6 linked regions of the Homo sapiens genome follow. The protein of the gene in region 1 purifies or fractionates together with the protein of each later gene. This does not show direct contact. Each region holds a gene or a part of one and is shown in the gene's direction. Other genes may lie near its edges.

What was found.
Region 2: the proteins of GAPVD1 (region 1) and PSMB7 fractionate together in Homo sapiens (co-fractionation; one large-scale study listed by BioGRID). This does not show direct contact.
Region 3: the proteins of GAPVD1 (region 1) and RASA3 fractionate together in Homo sapiens (co-fractionation; one large-scale study listed by BioGRID). This does not show direct contact.
Region 4: the proteins of GAPVD1 (region 1) and RASA2 fractionate together in Homo sapiens (co-fractionation; one large-scale study listed by BioGRID). This does not show direct contact.
Region 5: the proteins of GAPVD1 (region 1) and RASAL1 fractionate together in Homo sapiens (co-fractionation; one large-scale study listed by BioGRID). This does not show direct contact.
Region 6: the proteins of GAPVD1 (region 1) and LRRC8B fractionate together in Homo sapiens (co-fractionation; one large-scale study listed by BioGRID). This does not show direct contact.

The regions. Positions count from the first base shown.
Region 1 is NC_000009.12:125,362,826-125,365,266, forward strand, and holds part of GAPVD1 (GTPase-activating protein and VPS9 domain-containing protein 1), read left to right. Parts: 3' UTR 1-2,441. UniProt on the Homo sapiens protein: Acts both as a GTPase-activating protein (GAP) and a guanine nucleotide exchange factor (GEF), and participates in various processes such as endocytosis, insulin receptor internalization or LC2A4/GLUT4 trafficking.
Region 2 is NC_000009.12:124,359,943-124,363,442, reverse strand, and holds part of PSMB7 (proteasome subunit beta type-7 precursor), read left to right. Parts: intron 1-3,500. UniProt on the Homo sapiens protein: Component of the 20S core proteasome complex involved in the proteolytic degradation of most intracellular proteins. This complex plays numerous essential roles within the cell by associating with different regulatory particles.
Region 3 is NC_000013.11:114,010,624-114,014,123, reverse strand, and holds part of RASA3 (ras GTPase-activating protein 3), read left to right. Parts: intron 1-875; coding exon 876-982; intron 983-2,875; coding exon 2,876-2,953; intron 2,954-3,012; coding exon of another isoform or gene 3,013-3,054; exon of another isoform or gene 3,055-3,469; intron 3,470-3,500.
Region 4 is NC_000003.12:141,553,027-141,556,526, forward strand, and holds part of RASA2 (ras GTPase-activating protein 2), read left to right. Parts: intron 1-830; coding exon 831-914; intron 915-2,813; coding exon 2,814-2,886; intron 2,887-3,500. UniProt on the Homo sapiens protein: Inhibitory regulator of the Ras-cyclic AMP pathway. Binds inositol tetrakisphosphate (IP4).
Region 5 is NC_000012.12:113,132,962-113,137,017, reverse strand, and holds the start of RASAL1 (rasGAP-activating-like protein 1), read left to right. Parts: upstream 1-1,256; 5' UTR 1,257-1,555; coding exon 1,556-1,620; intron 1,621-4,056. UniProt on the Homo sapiens protein: Probable inhibitory regulator of the Ras-cyclic AMP pathway. Plays a role in dendrite formation by melanocytes.
Region 6 is NC_000001.11:89,580,329-89,583,828, forward strand, and holds part of LRRC8B (volume-regulated anion channel subunit LRRC8B), read left to right. Parts: intron 1-2,296; 5' UTR 2,297-2,322; coding exon 2,323-3,500. UniProt on the Homo sapiens protein: Non-essential component of the volume-regulated anion channel (VRAC, also named VSOAC channel), an anion channel required to maintain a constant cell volume in response to extracellular or intracellular osmotic changes.

The DNA.
Region 1 (2,441 bases):
GGCTGAAGATTGTTTTGTATGATACTGCACAGCATCAGGCATTTTAAAGCAGATCTTTACTAAACAGGTTAATGAGCTAACAAGCAGGTTCTCTCGTCTTTGGGCTCTTTCCTTTCTGAGTTGCATATTCTATTTTCTTGTCCCCAAGTAGAGACTAGTACTACAAAAAGGGACCACATTTTTCAAGTATTTCTAAGTATAAAAAACAAAACAAAAATCTCTTAGGAAATGTCTAGACCTCCATTCTTGGATTCCCTTTCTTTCCTTTTATTTTAAAAAAGAACAGTACCCCTCTTTTAAGATGCTGTCTTACATTAATGAGCATCTAATGGAAAGAAGGTATGAGTTGCACTGAGGATTAGAATAGTGGTGCGTTAGTGGCATTATCTATAAATACACTCACCTAAATTGAAAGCTAAGAAGGAAATGTAAATATAATATATATTTATATTTGATGTAATATGGACATCTGCAGATTCTAATAAACAAGGACTATTGCTGATAGTAGGCTGTGACATACTGTCTTGTGAAATGGTTTCCTTGACAAAATTTAAGCTGAGCTTAAAAGCAAAAAACAAAAAGTACACAGAAATATTTATTAAAATGTAATACAGTTTATTGAACTTTCTAGGTATGGAGTTTGATGGACAGGGCTGCCTTTAATGAGTGTGAAGGTCACTAAGTCACTTAGACATCTCACCGTGGAAGTTTGTGAGCCTGCATTAGGAGATAGACTGATTACCATACATGACATAAAAAGGAACAGTGGATAGCTCATACTTTATGGTGGTTCTTCTCCTCCGAAATAATATACTGCAGAAATCCCAGACAGAGCTCCTTACAAACCTTTAATTGTAATATATTTTTGATGATTATTCACATTGAATGCACAGACCAAGAATTCAGTGAATGTCATTTTTTAAAAAACTAATTTGTATTGTCTGCTCTAGTGATACAAGTTTTACTAGTGATAAACTATTTTAATCAACCATACTATTCTTATGGAAAAAAATATCTATTTTGGCAGGTTTCTGTGCCTTTATTTCCCTCTTCTGAAAAAAAGTCTGTGTTTTCATAGTTTGGTTTGCATTGTATATCAATAATTAATCAGGAATGGGTTTTGGTGCCTGAAAAATTGGCCATGGAGGCACACCAAAGCTTCAAGCACAAGTCTTGTACATGGGCCATCACTGTCTGGTTTCACTTCGTGTGTTTCCTAAACACATTTAGCTGCTTTTTTAACAAACTCAGCCCCATACTTGAGTCCCTTGTTGTTGGGAGCATTTCCAGGCATCTTTTAAGGGAACTGTGACAAACAGCCTCGGGCAGATGAACACGGAGGCTCTCTGTTGTCTGTCTCTGAGATCTTTGTGTCTGGGAATGCCTAAAGATTTTATTTTTTTTTCTTTGTTTTTATTTTATTTTATTTTATTTTTTTGAGACAGAGTCTCACCCTGTTGCCCAGGCTGGAGTGCAATGGTGCGATCTTGGCTCACTGCAACCTCCACCTCCCAGTTCAAGTGATTCCCCTGCCTCAGCCTCGCGAGTAGCTAGGACTACAGGCGCATGTCACCAAGCCCGGCTAATTTTTGTATTTTTAGTAGAAACGGGGTTTCACCATGTTGGCCAGGATGATCCTCAATCTCCTGACCTCGTGATCCACCCGCCTTGGCCTCCCAAAGTGCGGGATTACAAGCGTGAACCACCCTGCCCAGCCAGAAACTAGATTTTCTTTATGCCTCCACCCCTTCTTATTCATTTACTTTACAATACCAAAATAACAAATTGCATAGGAGTGTGGGATGTGGTTTCTGCCTTCTAGAGAGAGATCAGAATTAAACTAGTACTATGAAATGTCCTTTTGAATGTTAGGTCAAGAAATCCATGTACAGAGTCGTGCACTTCATTGGCTGTAACTGTCAAACTTGCCTTGTATTAGAAGTTAAATCCCATCGTAAATACATCACGAGGCCAGCTGTGTGATTTCTGAGACCTAGATGAGAGTCCATTTACTTCAGCCTTTGATTCAGTAAATGTTAAGCAGCAGAAGACTTCGAATGGTTGAAATTCATTGTTACAGGATTTAACTCATAAACCAATGAGAGATTTTTTTTTTCTCTGCAATGGTTGCTAAGTCTATTCCATGTTAACACTGTGGAAATAAATATGAAGATGTGGACATTGCATCGGGGCTCTTTTCTGTGGAAGAGAAGGTGGTGGGATTGGGGTGAAGGGCTACACTGGAGGCAGGAGATAGGGCTGTGCTGTGTTGGAGCCGGGGCTGAGGGTAGACCCCCCAGAGATTTGACATCTGTGACACCTGTGAAATGGGTTCGGGTGCTCATGACTCCATAGCTGGCGGAGGAGCACAGCACAGCTGTTGCAGGGGCAGCTAAGGTTTCCTCTGAAAATCTGTCAGGAGCAAGGACTACTTTGGCATT
Region 2 (3,500 bases), 1.0 Mb from region 1:
TCTGTGACTCAGTGCAGGGAGCATGCTGCTTTCGCGGAGACCGTTTCAAACACTTTTTTGAGCTCTTTCAATTGTATTCAACCATCAACCATTAATGAGTCTTCAGGCCACATCAGTGGCAGAGTCAGAGCCTTAGCCTGTCAGCAGGCCCCCAACAAACACATCGTGTTCAGACCTCCTCCTCTCAAGCGCTTGTCTTTGAATGGTCTCCAGTTGGGACTGGTGCAGTTTGGGAATTGCCCCATTTGGTAGGGGTCTCTCTCATGATTTCAGAGTCTTTGAGTTTGGCAGAGCCATGCATGCATTTGAAGTGAACGTTTCGTTTTTTCATTTGTTGACCTACATGCCAAGCACCAGGCTAGTTCCCTGGGATACAAAGATGGAGAAGGTGTAGGGCGGACCCCTGATGTTCAGAATTTTCATCCTCTCTCTTTAGAGTCCAAATTCTCATCACACCCAGACTTTTATCTGTTCTGCTCTAGATCATCAGAGGAATGGAATTTTTTGCTATTTCAAATCAAAGTGACAAAAGATAATGAAGATTTTCCAAGCTGCATTTGGATTGCCTTCTTTTTAAAAAATTAATTATTTGGCTTGGCAATAAAAACTGTATATACTTACCATATGCAAATGATGTTTTGAAATTTGTGTACATTGTGGAATGGCAAAGTCAAGCTAATATATTAACATGCATTACCTCAAATTTTTTTTTTGTGGTGAGAACACTTAAATCTTAGCTGTTTTTCAAGAATACAATACATTGTTATTAACTATAACCAGTATGTTGTACAATATATCTCTTGAACTTACTCCTTCTAACTGAGATGTTGTATCCTTTGGCCAGCATCTCCCCAACCCTCCCCTGCCTCACTTCTTACGAGTTAAATCCTTAGTGGTTAATGAAGGAGCAAATGGTTGTGAACTAATGGAACTAAATATAGATTCAGAAAGACACAGGGAAATGGATGAAAGTTGTGAGGATTCCGCCGTGATGCCATCCGCATTCTTGCTTCCCCCAGCAAAGGCAGGAGAGCTGCACCCCTTCCTCCTGGCATGGAGGTGGCGCAGAAGGCAAGGGACACTTGGGTGCTGCCTTGAAAACCCTTGGAGCTGGGGGAGCCCTGTTCCTCAGGAAAAAGGCTGAGTATCTCTTTGTTTTCTGCCCCCTAGGCCAGCTCTTCAGCTACATAAACAATATATTTGCCGGCAAATAACCAATTTTATTTCTTTTTAAATTATTTTAAAAATTTTAGTTACAAATCAGTTATGTCAAATGACTTGCCATATACATGAACTTTCACATTCCAAAGCTATGTATAAAATAGTCTGTTAGGTTTTCAGTCAAGTGCATATTTAATATTTTGCCTGCCTCCAGTGTAAGTAAAGCAGTGTTGAGATGCATAGCTGAACAGTCAAATGAAGAGGGTGTATTTAAAGAGTATTAATTTGATGCTGAACTGTCCAGAGTGCCCATTGGCTGGCACAGCTACATTTTTCTCTGGTGACATTCCCAATCTAAAAATCACTTAAGTGAGAAGAGAAATTCGATTGTAGCTGTAGACAAGAATAATGCGGAAAAAGTTTCTTGGCAGTACTATTTTGGACCTGCACTATAGTGGATGCCGAGGTAATCTATCAGTTTGTGAGTGTCTACAAAATGCAACTCTCTAGATAACAGGTTTAAAGTAAAGATTTAATACAGTCTCCATCTCCTATGATGTTGCAGTGACAGTTTAAAACTCATTCTCTAAATCTCAGCAGACTTTATAGCTAGCAGTGGGCCAATATAAAGTTTAATAGCATTACAACACATAAATCATCTTTTAAAGATGCTACTAGTAGCTCCAATATTAAATGCAGACAATCGCCCATGTTATAAATAATTTATCAAACACCATTTCAGATTTGCCTTCCATGCTGAGTTATTTATTTCAGCCTTTTCTGTATGATTCCTAAGGCACTTTTTGAAAGATCCATTACTGGTCAGTTTAATGAACTTGGGGGTCTGTTTTGTCCCCTCAAGCACTCGGGTACAGCTGTGGTGACCATTACGTGGCCGACGTGGACCTCTTTGTGCCTTTTACAAGTGCTGCCCATTTGTCATGTAGCGGTAAATGGAACTGCACATTGGAGTCCAGGGACACATTGTGCGATGCGGTGATGGAGACAAACAGATAGCTCTATAAAGTGCTGCTTGTCACAGCTGACTTGTAGTACAGTACATCACTCTTATTGTAATCTCATTTAAGAAGCAGGGGTGGCCCGGGGGACTGATATTCCCAGTTAGTTTGGTCTTTGTAGCCATAAAGCAAGAAGTGTTCCTTTTATATTTTCTGAACTTTAGGGAGTATGCTTTTTGCTTGGATTAATTATTATAGGAACTTCTCTGTGGCACTGTGTGAAGATTTGTCAGCAGGTTTCTTTGGCCCTCCTTGTCCTGGCCTGGGGTTTGGTATAGGCAGTTGCTGCTTAGAGATAAGTTGTGTTTTTAGGAGCCCTCTGGCTTGCTTTACTAAATAACTTACCATTTATTAAGCAGTAGCTATGTGCCAGAAACTATAGCAGGTGCTTTCTGTACCTTTATTTCTAATTTGTTAGTAATCTTATGAAGTTGGATTTATTATCATTATATTACAGAGCGGGAGAGTAAACTCAGAGAGGTGTAGTGACTTGTCCAGGGTTGCCCAGCAGTAAGTAGTAGACTGGGGATTCAAACCCATTCTGTCTGCCTCCATGTCTCCTTGAACCTGGGTTCCCCAGCTGGTGTTTAATCGTCAGGGTCATGGTGATCTTTTAGCTGAGCGTCTGAAAGCAAAAGGAAGCTGCTGTTGGCCTGGAGGGCCATTTTTTGGTAACGAGGGTAAGGCCTACTCGCCCATCGCCACACTGAGGTTCCCTTGTGACCTGCAACATAAATGCATAGGCAGCTGGCTGGGGGCAGATGCCTCCCTGGCTGTGGGAGAGAGCATCGCACCTGGGCCTGACCACCTGGGGTCATGGGCTCTGCAGAGCCCTTATCAAGGCCCCTCTGTAGCAGCTGTCCCCGGGCAGATGCTGCCCAGGCCCTAGGTCACTCTGCATCTTCCAGAAAAGGGAGGTGCAGTTTCCCTACGAAGAACTAATCCTAAAGGAAGAGACAGTGCTTCTTGCGCTTATTGTGGGCTGGAGACAGATACAAATGTGGTGTTTTCCCCACCTCTTGCCTTTAGTTTGTGGTTTTTCTTGATAGTTTTCTTAAATATTTGGTAGCACATGTTAAAGACAAAAGTTGTTTAATTGTGAAATTCCACTATAAAGAAAACACAGTATGAATATGCCCAGTAGCATATTTGCATACGTGTCTAGAATTCTGTGTATGGAAATACTGTAGTCAGAGACAGTATTCAGCATTGAAGCAGTTCCTGGAACATAGTAGGTCCCTATAGGTGTGTGTTAAAGACATTAACTGTGTAAGTAGTGGGTGGACAGTAGAGCCTTTGGTCATTTCCACGCTGTTTTGA
Region 3 (3,500 bases), on another chromosome or scaffold:
GGAGAGAGAGAGAGAGACAGGGAGAGACGGAGAGAGAGGCAGAGACAGACGGAGAGAGAGGCAGAGACAGACGGAGAGAGAGATAGAGACGGAGAGAGAGAGATGGAGAGAGACAGAGACAGACGGAGAGAGATGGAGAGAGAGATCGAGACGGAGAGAGAGAGAGAGAGACAGAGAGATAGAGACAGGGAGAGAGAGACGGAGAGAGAGAGACAGAGAAAGAGAGAAAAAGAGAGAGACAGAGATAGGGAGAGAGACAGGGAGAGAGACAGAGAGATGGAGAGAGAGACAGACGGAGAGAAAGAGACGGGGAGAGAGAGATGGAGTTAGGGAGAGAGACAGAGAGGGAGAGAGACAGAGAGATGGAGAGAGAGAGAGAGAGCCAGAGACAGACGGACGGAGAGAGAGAGGGGGAGAGAGAGAGAGAGACAGAGATAGGGAGAGAGACAGGGAGAGGGACAAAGAGGGAGAGAGACAAAGAGATGGAGAGAGAGAGAGACAGATGGAGGGGGGGAGAGAGCCAGAGACGGAGAGAGAGAGAGAGAGACAGAGATAGGGAGAGAGACAGAGGGACAAAGAGAGGGAGAGAGACAGAGAGATGAGAGAGAGACAAATAGAGGGAGAGAGAGAGAGACAGAGATACGGAGAGAGACAGGGAGAGAGACAAAGGGGGAGAGACAGAGAGATGGAGAGAGAGAGGGAAACAGAGAGAGGGAGAGAGGGAAACAGAGAGAGGGAGAGAGACAGACACAGGTGGAGATAGAGCCAGGACTGTGGCTGGACTTCCCTGCGGACCCTCAGGGGGCCGGGGCATGGTGTCCCCACGAGGCCATTGTGCCCGAGGAAAACGGTCACCCTGCTTCTCTCTCCCGCAGATGACCCGGACGTCAGGTACACTGCAGTGAGCAGCTTCATCTTCCTGAGGTTCTTTGCGCCCGCCATTCTCTCCCCCAACCTCTTCCAGCTCACGCCGCACCACACGGTGAGTGACCGGCTGAGGGACCGAGGCTTTCTGAGCTGTCCTGCGACGCCGGCCTGGGTTGGGGCATCTGCGTGGCTGTAGGGGGCCGACCGTGTGGAGTGTGGAATGCGTGGGGAGTGTGTGAGGAATCAGGAGTGAGTGGGGAGTGTGTGTGGAATGAGGAGTGAGTGGGGAGTGTGTGTGGAATGGGGAGTGTTTGTGGAATGAGGAGTGTGTGGAGTGCGTGGACTGCGTGGGGAGTGTGGAAGGCATGTGGAATGGGGAGTGTGTGTGGAATGAGGAGTGAGTGGGGAGTGTGTGTGGAATGGGGAGTGTTTGTGGAATGAGGAGTGTGTGGAGTGCGTGGACTGCGTGGGGAGTGTGGAAGGCATGTGGAATGGGGAGTGTGTGTGGAATGAGTGAGTGGGGAGTGTGTGTGGAATGGGGAGTGTGTGTGGAATGAGGAGTGTGTGGAGTGCGTGGACAGTGTGTGGGGAGTGTGGAAGGCGTGTGGAATGGGGAGTGTGTGTGGAATGAGGAGTGAGTGGGGAGTGTGCGTGGAATGAGGAGTGTGTGTGGAATGGGGAGTGTGTGTGGAATGCATGGGGAGTGTGCATGGAATGAGGAGTGTGTGTGGAATGCGTGGGGAGTGTGTGTAATGAGTGAGTGGGGAGTGCGTTTGGAATGGGGAGTGTGTGTGGACGGTGCATGGGGAGTGGGGAGTGTGGAAGACGTGTGGAATGGGGAGTGTGTGTGGAGTGTGTGGACGGTGCACGGGGAGTGTGGAAGGTGTGTGGAATGGGGAGTGCGTGTGGAGTGTGTGTGGAGTGTGTGGACGGTGCGTGGGGAGTGCTGGTGGATGCGCTGGGTCCTGGAACGTCCTCGTTGCAGGTGGTTCACCGACCTATTTAAGCTGTGTACGTTCTGGGGGAGTCGAGACAGTGTCACAAAAGCAGTGGACGGTTTGTCCAGGGTTTTAGCTGCTGGTCACCGCCCTGCTCTCCTCCCCTGCCCATCACATATGGAGTATTGATGATCGGCGTATCATCCGTGTATTGAGTCAACAGATTCCTATTTAGCACTGATTTTCTCCAGGCCCCAATGTGGTTGCTGGGGCCGCAGCTCTCAGGGTACAGGGATCTGGGGTGACCGTGTTGCACGTGCGGGTGGCAGAGCTGGAAGGAGATGGCCAGGGCGAGAGGACGTGAGGGATTGCCCATTCCCCAGCACTTCTTTTTTTTTGAGACAGAGTCTTGCTCTGTCACCAGGCTGGCGTGCAGTGGTACCATCTCAGCTCACTGCAACCTCTGCCTCCTGGGTTCAAGCAATTCTCGTGCGTCAGCCTCCCTAGTAGCTTGGATTACAGACGTGCGCCACCACGCCCAGCTAATTTTGTATTTTTATTAGAGATGGGGTTTTACCATGTTGGCCAGGCTGGTCTCGAACTCCTGACCTCAAGTGATCTACCTGCCTCGGCCTCCCGAAGTGCTGGGATTACAGGCGTGAGCCACCAAGCCCGGCCCCCAGCACTTCTGAGTTGAACCTTCAAACCCTGTGAAGGCTGAGATGAGCCCCAGGCAGGGCCAGGAGACTCAGCACCCCGAGACTCAGCGCCCCAGAGCCATGACCCCACCTGATGCTTTCGACTTTGAGATGCACCCTGCACGCTGGGCCGAGAGAGTGGGTCACCGCGGTGCCGTCGGATGTTGCCTGCGGGATGGTCTCAGCAGCTCCTGAGACTGTGGGACGCCCACCCCCTCCAGTCCCATCTGCGTCGCTACCCCTGTTTCTCCGTAGCTCATGCACAAGCCACAGCAGCTCTGAGGTGACTCCTGCATTTCGTCCCCTCGATCTGGGACAGTCACAGCATTTCTGTGATGCTGACATAGACCTTTCTTGCTCCCGCCTCCCCAGGACCCCCAGACGTCCAGGACGCTGACATTGATCTCCAAGACCGTTCAGACCCTCGGCAGCCTGTCCAAGTCCAAATCTGTGAGTCCCTCTTCTTCATTTTCTCTTTTTAGGGACAACTGATTCTTTTCTCTCTTCAGAAAATACACGTGAAAAACCTCCCACATTTGAGAGAGTCGTAAGATAAAGATCAAGAATCAAAGCCGGCACCACATCCTCTCTTGAAACCCAGGACCTGAGCGTCCCCGTCCCGCTCACCTCTCCCCTCCTAAAGTGAACCCCTTGCCTTTTTCGGGAGCCTGTGGCTCGTCGCCGGCCCCGTGGCAGGAGCAGCATCTGACCTGTCAGGTGTGGGAAGCGGCTGAACAGGCCAGGCAGATGGCCTAACCTGGCGCCTCCTGGGCGTTGCGGTGCTGGAGGCTCCTCGTCACGCAGCCCCCTACTCCCCTCGCGGCCCCCTCCTCCCCACGCGGCCCCCTCCTCCCCACCTCCCCACGCGGCCCCCTCCTCCTCACATGGCCCCCTCCTCCCCATGCTGCACTACCTCCCCATGCAGCCCCCTCCTCCCCACTTCCCTCCCCACGCAGCCGCCTCCTCCCCACGTGGCGCTTCCTCCCCAAGCGGCCGC
Region 4 (3,500 bases), on another chromosome or scaffold:
TGGAGTAGATTAGATGACCTTGGTTTTTATGGTCTAAAACATTTTCTACAGAATGGTGCTTACTGAGGAGCTGTTTACTGAGAATTGGAATAAAAGGCTGCAGAATTGTGTGAAGCTTGCCCTATATTTATGAATCAGATTTTTAAGTGGAAGCTGCAGTTGTTTCCTTGTTTGTCATTCATGCTTTAGCAGAGGATATGATGCCATAGAGCTGGCTTGGTTTGTAGCTTCTCATTTAGGGTTTGCACCACTTTCTTTTCCTTTTTAGAGGCCACAGCAGTTTTGATGTATTATCAAACCGCAAAATGTACCTTGTTGGGTATTTAGCAGAAGGAAATGTGTTGACTGTTACACATCCCTTATCTACAGTGCTTGAGACTGTTTTGAATTTCTTATTCTTATTTTTTTTTTGAGTATTTGCATTATATATACTTGCCCATTAAGCATCCCAAATCCAAAAAGCCCAAATTTGAAATGCTGCAGTGAGCATTTCCTTGGAGCATCATGTCAGTGCTCAGAAAGTTTTGAATTTTGGAGGACTTTGGATTTTTGAATTTGGAATGCTCAGTCTGTGTTTGATAGTTTCATTAGTGATTGTGGCATTCCTGTTTAGTCTCATTTTGAAAATACAGCATAAATTTAAAAATGCATACATACATATGTCCATACATATTACTACCTATTCCATATAGGTAGTATATAGCCATACAACTGCAGACACATGGAAAACAATTCTTAACCTTTTGAATGTATTAGTTTGTGTTTAAAGATAATGTTTTATCTTGTTTAACTGGAATCTAATATGTTAAATCTCTTTTATTCTACCTTAGCATCAAGGCATGCCATGGGTTGCCTCTCATAAATGGCCAAAGCTGTGACCCTTATGCAACAGTTTCTCTAGTGGGCCCTTCTAGGTAATATTTATTGAATTATTATTAGGTTTTAAAGTTTTGATGTTTGATTTAAAAATTTAAAAAGTAAGATTCTACGAGCAAATGATAAATAGCTATTTATAACACACAGTAATAAATGCTTTGAAAGAAAAATCTTTAGTGAGTTCTATTATACACTTGTCAATAACAAAGCCCTCTTTTTACAGACAGAAATTGGTACCCCATTTTAAATCTGCCATGCTCTTAGGCTTTAAGGAACAACTTCAGTTTTATACTAGTACAATGTAGTACTTTAAAACATAAACTTGACTTTTCATGCATCAGCATTCCTACTTTTCAAATATCCTGAATTTTATGCATGTAAAATCCTGTTTTAATGAATGCCAGTTCAGAATAACAAGACAATTTATATATTTTTATCTGGAAGGCAGCTCAGGACTGAAAATTGCCTTTTCTACTCATGAAATCTGTCCTCTACAGAGAGAATTCCAACTGTAGAAAAACTGCTGAAGTACTAGAGCATGGCAAAGTGTACCATATCATTGATTTAAATGATTTATAATAATTTGTGAAAAAACCTATAGCACTTTGTAATACGGTGTGTTATATGACTTCATTATGATTTCTTTAAGGAACTGACACATCTGAAATATGTCTACAACTTGAAGGTTTAGAATCAGGAAGCAAGAAACACAGTATTCCCTCTACACACACATACATGCATACATACACACCCCTTTTCCCCATCCCCAGAATCTCTAGTTATTCTTACTTTGTAGAAAATCACTACTAAGTCACTTTGAAAAATGTATTTATGTATGTATGTAAAGTACCTAGTACCATGCCGGTATTTATTAGGTGCTCAAACAATAGTATGCTATTAGCAGATACTCAGTCGTATGACATTAAATGCTATTAGAGAGATTTATTTTTGTGTGTTAAAAATGTTCAATCTAGTGGAGCTATTTTTGTTTTTTTTAATAATCTCTACCTGACAAATTATTTGGTAACATACAGTTAGAGACAATTTGGCATATGAATTTGTGTTTTAAAAAGTCTGGCCAGGCGCAGGTGGCTCACGCCTGTAATCCCAGCACTTTGGGAGGCCGAGGCGGGTGGATTACCTGAGGTCAGGAGTTCGAGATCAGCCTGACCAACAAGGAGAAACCCCGTCTCTACTAAAAATACAGAATTAGCTGGGTGTGGTGGCTCATGCCTGTAATCCCAGCTACTCGGGAGGCTGAGGCAGGAGAATCGCTTGAACCCTGAGGCGAAGGTTATGGTGAACCGAGATTGTGCCATTGCACTCCATCCAGCCTGGGCAACGAGCAAAACTCCATCTCAAAAAACTAAAAAATAAAAAGTCACTGTTGGTTTTGCTATTGTACTGTAGTTGTGTAAGATGTTAACACTGGGAGAGGCTGGGTAAAAACACAAGATTTCCTTATGCGTTTTTTGTGACCTCCTCTGAATCTATAATTAAATTAAAAGATTTTTTTAAGAAGTCTCTATTATACCTGAAGCCCAAGAAGTAAGCTGAGTTAAGAATGTTTTTCAAGTTCCTTGGGTATTTTTCAACATAGATGAAGGTGCTCTAAATCTTATTGTCTTCCTTCTATTTATTCTGAGTTGCTTATAGAATAGAATGTGTTTTTAAAACCCCTGAAAAAGGTTGGCAATCTAGTGTGTCCGTAGAGAGAATAATACAATCTTGGCACATAGGGGATGCCTAAAGCTTATATATTCTTTGATTTGAGTTTATAAGGACAGTTACTTTTTTCCAAGCAATATTTAAAACTGAATCTTCCCTGAGTCACCTTAACTTTTAAATGGAGGTCAGGCTCCCTGGTTGGAAATAGCATGTTTTATAATTGTGTACTGTTAAGTTCTACAAGGTAAAACTCTACCACATTGGAACAGGAATGACCAAAAGAAGACAAAAGTAAAGAAGAAAACAAGCAATCCGCAGTTTAATGAAATCTTTTATTTTGAGGTAATTTTTTGTTTTACGTAAATGTTAACATTAAATATGTAATATTTAATGCTAGTTGATTTCTTTTTTCAAACCACAGTCATAGTAATCATTTTATCAATTAATGCAGATAAGCATTTCTCTCCTGAAAGCAGTAGAACCATGGTGTGATGCAATGGATGCCCAATATATAAAATGAATAAAGGCAGAGCTCTAATTTGGGAGCAGGAAGGGCCAGGGCCATACCCACTCCCCAGTCATCCTCACTATTCATGCCCTTCCTTTGCACCCTCCCTTACCCTACCCAGCTCCCTACCTAACACATAGTGGCCACAGGATTCTTCTGCAGGGTACCCTTTGACAGTCACTAGTGAAGTAAGTGTAATTATCACTCAAGAAATCTGAGTTCCAGTCAAGTTGACTGAAAGAGTCACTAAATGTGACTCAAGTTTCTTATCCTGTGAAAGAATAATCGGAAGGGAAACTAGCAGCACTACCTGACTCAGAGTTTTTGTAAGACCCAAAGCATGTGAGAATCCTTTGAGACCATAAAATACTTTATGATTACAGCTTTATTATTACTTTTTTTTTTAAGCCTAATTCATTCTGTGGACGCCTGCTTATCTTCATAGACA
Region 5 (4,056 bases), on another chromosome or scaffold:
GGCCTTTCTAAGAGGTCTTGGGCAGGTCAACAATGAATTCACAGGGAGAAATAAGTGTGCGAACGGATCTGTTCTGGGACAGGCCCTGCCTGTCATATTATCTCATTTAAAATCAGAAAAATGTACAAACCTGGAGCCACTGGAGCAGAGAGAAAGGAAAGAAAATCTCTACCGGAGTGGAAGGGCATCCTGGAAGCCTTCCCAGGAGAGGTGACGCGTGGCCCACGCCTCAAAGGACAACAATCAGAATATCAAACACTTTCTGGACGTGTATTAGGTACTTGTCACTGTCCTGAGACTTTTATCTTCATTAACTCTTTTAATTCTTTCAAAATCCTGTGACTGAAATGCAATGTCATCCTCACTCAACAGATGAGAAAACCAAACCAAAGCACAGAGAGGTTGAATGGCTTACCCAAGTCCAGACAGCTACCAAATGGCAGAGCCAGGATTCGAACCCCTGGAAGGCAAATCAGTTACTGACTGTGAGACCTCTGCCAAGTTATTTAATCCCTCTGAACCTCAGTTTCTTTATCCATAAACTGCGGATAATGGGGTAACAGTGGAGTAGTGTGTAGTGCACATCTGGAGACAAAAATGAGCTAATCCCAGTAAAGCGCTTAGAACAGTGCCTGGCACCCATGAAGTGTTCAAACAACTGTAGATGACTTTTTATCATCGCTGTAGTGGTTATCTTCAAGCCTTCCCCTCCCCCATCTGGCCGCGGCTTCCTCCCCCGCAGTGCCAGCCCGTGACGTTAGAGCAGAGTCTGGGTTCTGTGTTTAACTGGAAACTAGAACGAGATGGAAGGGGATGTTCAAGGCCCCTCCCTTGACTCTGAACGGACCCCCAGGGAACATGCGACCCTCTCTCTGGCGACGCCTCCCACCCACCACTAATACTTGCTCCTGGACCGGGGGGCGCGGAGGTTGGAGAGAGGAGGCAGGTGTCTGCATGGTAGGCAAGGAGGGGTGGGGGCGGAGAGGTGTGAATATGTTGGATGAGGGACAGGCGGGGGCACAGACCATGTCTTTTAAGCCCAATGCCAACTCACCAGGAGCCAGCGGCCACGCCCATCAGGACGGGGGCCCCTCCCCACCTGGCGGTGCACCCTTGTCTCCGCCGCCCGTGCGCTCTGGCGCGCATGACTGGGGTGCCGGTAGAGGGCGCGCGAGGGGGCCCGGGGTCAGGTGGGGGACCCCATTGGAGGCGGGATTGTGGGGAGGTCCCTGGGCCGCCCCTCCCGCCCCCTGCCCGCCCAGCCTGCTTGTCTGGAGCTCCAGACGCCTCGGCAAGAGCCCGCTGCGCCCCCTGCGCGCTCCTCCTGCTCGGAGCACGGCTCCTACCTGTAGAGTCCGGACGGGCGCTCCCTCCCCGGGCACCTACACCTTCTCCTCTTTCGGAAATCTCCCATCCAGCTACCCGGGTCTCGGACAGGCGGCACTGGGACCACGAGGCAGGGAGCCAGGCTTGAAGCAGGTGACATGTAGACGTCCCCTGGTCCAGCCTCGGAACCTGAGCGCCCTTCTGCCTGGAAAGTTTGTGGCTAGGCGCCATGGCCAAGAGCAGCTCCCTGAATGTTCGCGTGGTGGAGGGCCGCGCGCTGCCTGCCAAGGACGTGTGAGTACTCCTCGGGCGCTTCTGGGTGAGGGGCGCGCAAGGCCTGGGGTGGGGCCGACGTCGCCCTTTCCGCGTGCCAGGGCGGGTTGGCAGGAGGGCGAGGGGTTCTTGTCCAAGACTGGTCTTGGGGCAGTTCCGCTTTAAAGGGGCGAGAGGCCGCATGCCCATGGCTGTCCCGGTGGGAGGGGGGCGCCTAGAGTTAGCAGATGCCCCGCCTCACCCCCGGGCAGGGGAGGGGGTGTCTTTGTTCCCGGGATGTACTAAAGGGGGTCGTCCAGAGCTGAAGAGGGGATTAGAGGGCCATATTCTGTCAGATCTGGGAGGGGAGAAAGCGGGGGGTCTCTTCCTTAGTCCAGGCAGATGTTGGAGGTGGCTCCTCCAGGCGTGGGTGGGGGCCTAGCAAGGGAACCCTGGGGAGGACCCTTGGAGAGGGCCTGGGATCAGATGAGCCCTAACATCCTGTGTGGATCTGGTGCTTAGGTTTGCAGAGTGTCACCAGGTGGCCCTCCAGGGTCCTTTTGACCCCAAGCCCTGAGCTCCCCAGTCTTGTGGCTCCCAGCCTCGTGTGGGCCTTCCCCGGGTGCTGAGCTGCTTGAAGAGCCAATTCCTTGCTGCGACCCCCTCCCCAGCCAGGTGCAATGGGACTGGGGGACCCTACGGCTCCCTTCACTACTAGTCCCAAGCTATGCTTCCCCCAGGGCTGAGTCAGCAGCTGCTGAATCAGCAGAATATGGGGGGCGGGTTCCCCCTCCTGCTTGGCATAGTGCCCAGAAGGGGCTCTGAGGGCCTTAGCACCTGCGACAGGTGTGGGATCCTCTGGAGGACATTTGTTGTGTGACCTTGAACCTGCTTCTCTCTGGGCCTTGGTTTCCCATTTGGGCAATGAGAGCTCTGGACCGGAGTCCCCATCTGGTTGCCTGGGGTCTCCCATCCAGCTGGGAGGGTGGAGGACCTGTTAGGAGTTCCCCTGTGGCCCAGGTGAGCAGGAGCATGGATTGGGAGCCTTCACCTGTGTCAAGATTCAGTCTTAGCTCTGTGCTGATTCCCCAAGGTGTGGGCTCCCAGAGAGGACTTTCCTGCCTGATTTTATGACATTCCCAACCCCCAAAACACTGCAGCTGCGTCAAGGGGGCAGCTGTTGAGAGCAATTTTTGCCACCCTTCATCCTCATTGGCTACTCCAAATATACACACCCTGAATGAGAAGCAGAGTGTGTGCTCTGACAGTTCAGTGGCTGGACAAGCCCCCCCACCAGACTCTTTCTAAGATGTCCCCTCAGAGGCCCTGGGAATGAGACGGCCTACACTGTTAGGGCATTGAGGCCAGGCTGGATGCCTGGCAGCTGCTAGGTGGTGAAAGGAGTTCTTTCCAGAAACGGGGTTCTCACTCACTGAGCTCTGGCCCCTCCACCAGCCCTGGGTGAGAGGTCATGAGGGGGCGATGGGTGTCACCCCTGCACCTGGACACTGGCTTACGGTAACCTGCTGCTCTTCTGGAGAAGGGACTTGAGTCATGCCTGGTTCCTGCAGCTCTTGGCCAAACTTCCTGCCCCCAATTCCTGGGCCAGTGAGCTATGAAATAGGTCATGCCCTAGAGCAAGGGTGGGGAGGAGTCACTTAGCCCCAGCTGGCAGGGGGGGTTCTGGCCACCCTGCCTCAGTTTCCCTAGCTGTCAGCACCCTTCTTCAAAGGGGCTCTTCCTGGAGGCTGCTGGGAGCTCCATGCCATGGGAGCCCTTAGGTGGGGTGTGTTCTTTCCCTCTTCTCCTAAGGGAAAGGGCCCAGATTCTGCCTAAAGCATTGCCAGGTTTGAGGGGGGTCCATTCTGGCCCGGGAGGAGGCCTCTTCAGGTAATTTTAGAGTTTTTACTATTAGAAATAGTAGCAGTCAGTCACTGAGGGCTTAGTATGGACAGGCCCTGTGCTTAACACTTCATATAGTTCTATTGGCGTCTCTTATTTTACAAATGGGGAAACTGAGGACCAGAGAGGCAGTCACTTGCCTAAGGTCACCCAGCTGCGATTTGAACTCTGACTACTCCATGCCCAAACCAGACTGGGCAGGCAATGGCTGAGGGGCCTGCTTTCCCAAGACTGAGCTGAGTCAGGGGCCGTGGGAGAGGCCACAAGTCTGGAGAGATCAGGGGTCTGGAAGCAGCCACCCCCTCTTGCCACCGTTGCCCTCCCTGATAGGAGTCTGATAAGGCCCTCATGCGTCAGAGCCCTGCAGCTGACTAGTGCTGAGCTCGGCTCCCAGGAGGGCCTGGAGGTCAGGCTGGGTCTGCAGGAGGGGGTGTGTCTCCCAGCCCTCGGCTAGTGGGATCCCAGCCCATCTGACCCCACATCTGTAGTTGGGGAAACTGAGGGGTGGGAGCCTGCATAAAGGAAGCTTAGGGGTGGAGAACCCAGGGAAGGAAACTGAGACACAGGACATTACCA
Region 6 (3,500 bases), on another chromosome or scaffold:
TACAGAAGGACTGCAGCTCCTTTATCTGGGTTTACCTATTAATATGGCCAGATGTTATAATCAGTATTTCAGCGTAACAGCTGTCTCATGACTAGCTGAAAGTATGCATACATGTCAACTAAAATCCTAAACTGTTTTTCACATGTTCTTTCTTTCATCCAGCAGTGTTTTCTACCATCCCTCACACCCCTGGCCACATCATATTTATAGTATTTTGAGGTCTAAGCCCAGGACTTTCTCTTTGCTTCATGTATTCCTCTCATTTTAGTTTCTGTCTTACCTCGACACACAATTATGTAAGGCAGAGAGGTGAGGCAGAATGAGAAGAGTTGAGAGTTAGAAATAGATCCACTAAACTGGAGTGAAGGAGAGAAGCCCTGAAGAGCTATATAATCCACCTGTAGGTCCTAGGAGGAAGGTGAATCCATATAATATTATGTGATACCCAGAGAGGACACAAGCAGAAAGTAGTGCTCCAGTCCAGCAGTTAAGCTCAGAAATTGTAAAATGCCTTAACAGGTACAAGAGCATGAAGCTGTAGGGTTCAGGGTCAGATGGTCAGGAATATGCTGAGGATGAGACTTATTAACAGGGAGCAGGGACTCTGTAATGGGACTCTAAGGTTCAAGGCAGGATACCAGACCCCAGAAAGAGGGCAAATGAGAGTAAAAAAGTCTTCCTGGCCAGGCACAGTGGCTCAGGCCTATAATCTCAGCTCTTTGAGAGGCCAAGGTGGGCAGATCATGAGGTCAGGAGTTCGAGACCAGCCTGGCCAACATGGTGAAACCCCATCTCCTGTCTCTACTAAAAAGACACAAAAATTAGCTGGGCGTGATGCCATGTGCCTGTAGTCCCAGCTGCTCGGGAGGCTGAGGCGGGAGGATTGTTTGGACCCAGGAGGTGGAGGTTTCAGTGAGCTGAGATCACGCCACTAGACTCCGTCTCAAAAAAAAAAAAAAAAAAAAAAAAGGCTTCCTTGGGGATGCTACTAATACTAGAGTGTCTAGAGAGTAACTCTGGCCCAGAATAAATGATAAGACTTCAGACTCAAGAAAATCCAAGAGAAACCCTTGAAAATAGATTAGAGCTGGACTACCAGCAAGGGGGCACCATGCTACCATTATTATTTTTCTTCTTTTTCTTATCAGATATTTTCTAAGACCCACATATTTCCTTTTACTTTACTCTGTGCCATCTTATAGATCATCTGGATTTTACTGATTAGCAATTTTTGAAACAATTGATGTATGTAAGACTCAACATAGAAATTCTCAGGAATGTTGTCTGAATACTTTTCAGTATGAAAATACAAGATAATCTTGTTTTCCTGAAGGCAAAAGTAATTTAATAATGGAATATGCCTCCATCGTTTATCCTTTTAGTACTTTGCCATCACAACATTAAACATGAGAGGGAGTCCCCATGATAGAATATTCTAGCAGAGCTTTTCTTTCTTATTCTTTTTTAAGCCATAACTTTTAAATACTTCCCAACTTTTAAATACTCTAAGTTTTTTCATACTCATGTACTTAAATTACAAAGCGAAAGCTTGTGTGGAAAGGAGATAATGCATTCAGTGACAGGTTGTTCTGGGCATAGAATTGTAGACCCCACTAAGCCTAAGGGGTAATTTCACAAAGCAGAGCTTGCTTAAAAGAGGCTCCTTGTGGTGACTAAAACAACTCTTGGGCTGTAAGTGATGCTTCAGACATGGGACAAGGTGTGGAAAGGAGCTTACTCAGACATTTTGGAAGGTAAAATGTGACCACTGGAAATTAGGTGGCTGGCTGTGGTGACTCATAGCTGTAATTCCAGCACTTTCAGAGGCCAAGCAGGGAGGATCACTTGAGGCCAAGAGTCTGAGGCCTGTGAGACCCTGTCTCAAAAAAAAAAGGAAGAAAAAAAGAAAGAAAGAAAGAAAAAAATATTAGTAGCATAGGAACAAGTTTTTCAAATGTCAGTTGAAGAAAAATTGGCTCCTGGTTTTTAGTAGCCTAGCCTGGAGTTGAGATACAAGAGGTAACGAGATAATTACCTCAAGGGCTACCCCTAAATTTCTTTCTAGTCAGTATCACTAAATGGTCCCCCATCTAAGAGACTATGGTTCAGAGTTGGATGGCCTATAGTTTCAAATGAAACCAGAAGACTTATGTGCCCCTTAATCAGCTCTTCCTTTTAGGTTTTACCCCAGAGCTAAATCCTACTTGGGAAGGAGGGCATGTGTGTATGAATATTAGAGTAAAATGCTTATTTGAGTACTTGCTTCAGTAGTGTTTCTTTTATTTCCCTCTTCCAGTTTCTGTCCTCCTACAAGGGAAAGTCATGATTACACTAACTGAGCTAAAATGCTTAGCAGATGCCCAGTCATCTTATCACATCTTAAAACCATGGTGGGACGTCTTCTGGTATTACATCACACTGATCATGCTGCTGGTGGCCGTGCTGGCCGGAGCTCTCCAGCTGACGCAGAGCAGGGTTCTGTGCTGTCTTCCATGCAAAGTGGAATTTGACAATCACTGTGCCGTGCCTTGGGACATCCTGAAAGCCAGCATGAACACATCCTCTAATCCTGGGACACCGCTTCCGCTCCCCCTCCGAATTCAGAATGACCTCCACCGACAGCAGTACTCCTATATTGATGCCGTCTGTTACGAGAAACAGCTCCATTGGTTTGCAAAGTTTTTCCCCTATCTGGTGCTCTTGCACACGCTCATCTTTGCAGCCTGCAGCAACTTTTGGCTTCACTACCCCAGTACCAGTTCCAGGCTCGAGCATTTTGTGGCCATCCTTCACAAGTGCTTCGATTCTCCATGGACCACCCGCGCCCTTTCAGAAACAGTGGCTGAGCAGTCAGTGAGGCCTCTGAAACTCTCCAAGTCCAAGATTTTGCTTTCGTCCTCAGGGTGTTCAGCTGACATAGATTCCGGCAAACAGTCATTGCCCTACCCACAGCCAGGTTTGGAGTCAGCTGGCATAGAAAGCCCAACTTCCAGTGTCCTGGACAAGAAGGAGGGTGAACAGGCCAAAGCCATCTTTGAAAAAGTGAAAAGATTCCGCATGCATGTGGAGCAGAAGGACATCATTTATAGAGTATATCTGAAACAGATAATAGTCAAAGTCATTTTGTTTGTGCTCATCATAACTTATGTTCCATATTTTTTAACCCACATCACTCTTGAAATCGACTGTTCAGTTGATGTGCAGGCTTTTACAGGATATAAGCGCTACCAGTGTGTCTATTCCTTGGCAGAAATCTTTAAGGTCCTGGCTTCATTTTATGTCATTTTGGTTATACTTTATGGTCTGACCTCTTCCTACAGCCTGTGGTGGATGCTGAGGAGTTCCCTGAAGCAATATTCCTTTGAGGCGTTAAGAGAAAAAAGCAACTACAGTGACATCCCTGATGTCAAGAATGACTTTGCCTTCATCCTTCATCTGGCTGATCAGTATGATCCTCTTTATTCCAAACGCTTCTCCATATTCCTATCAGAGGTCAGTGA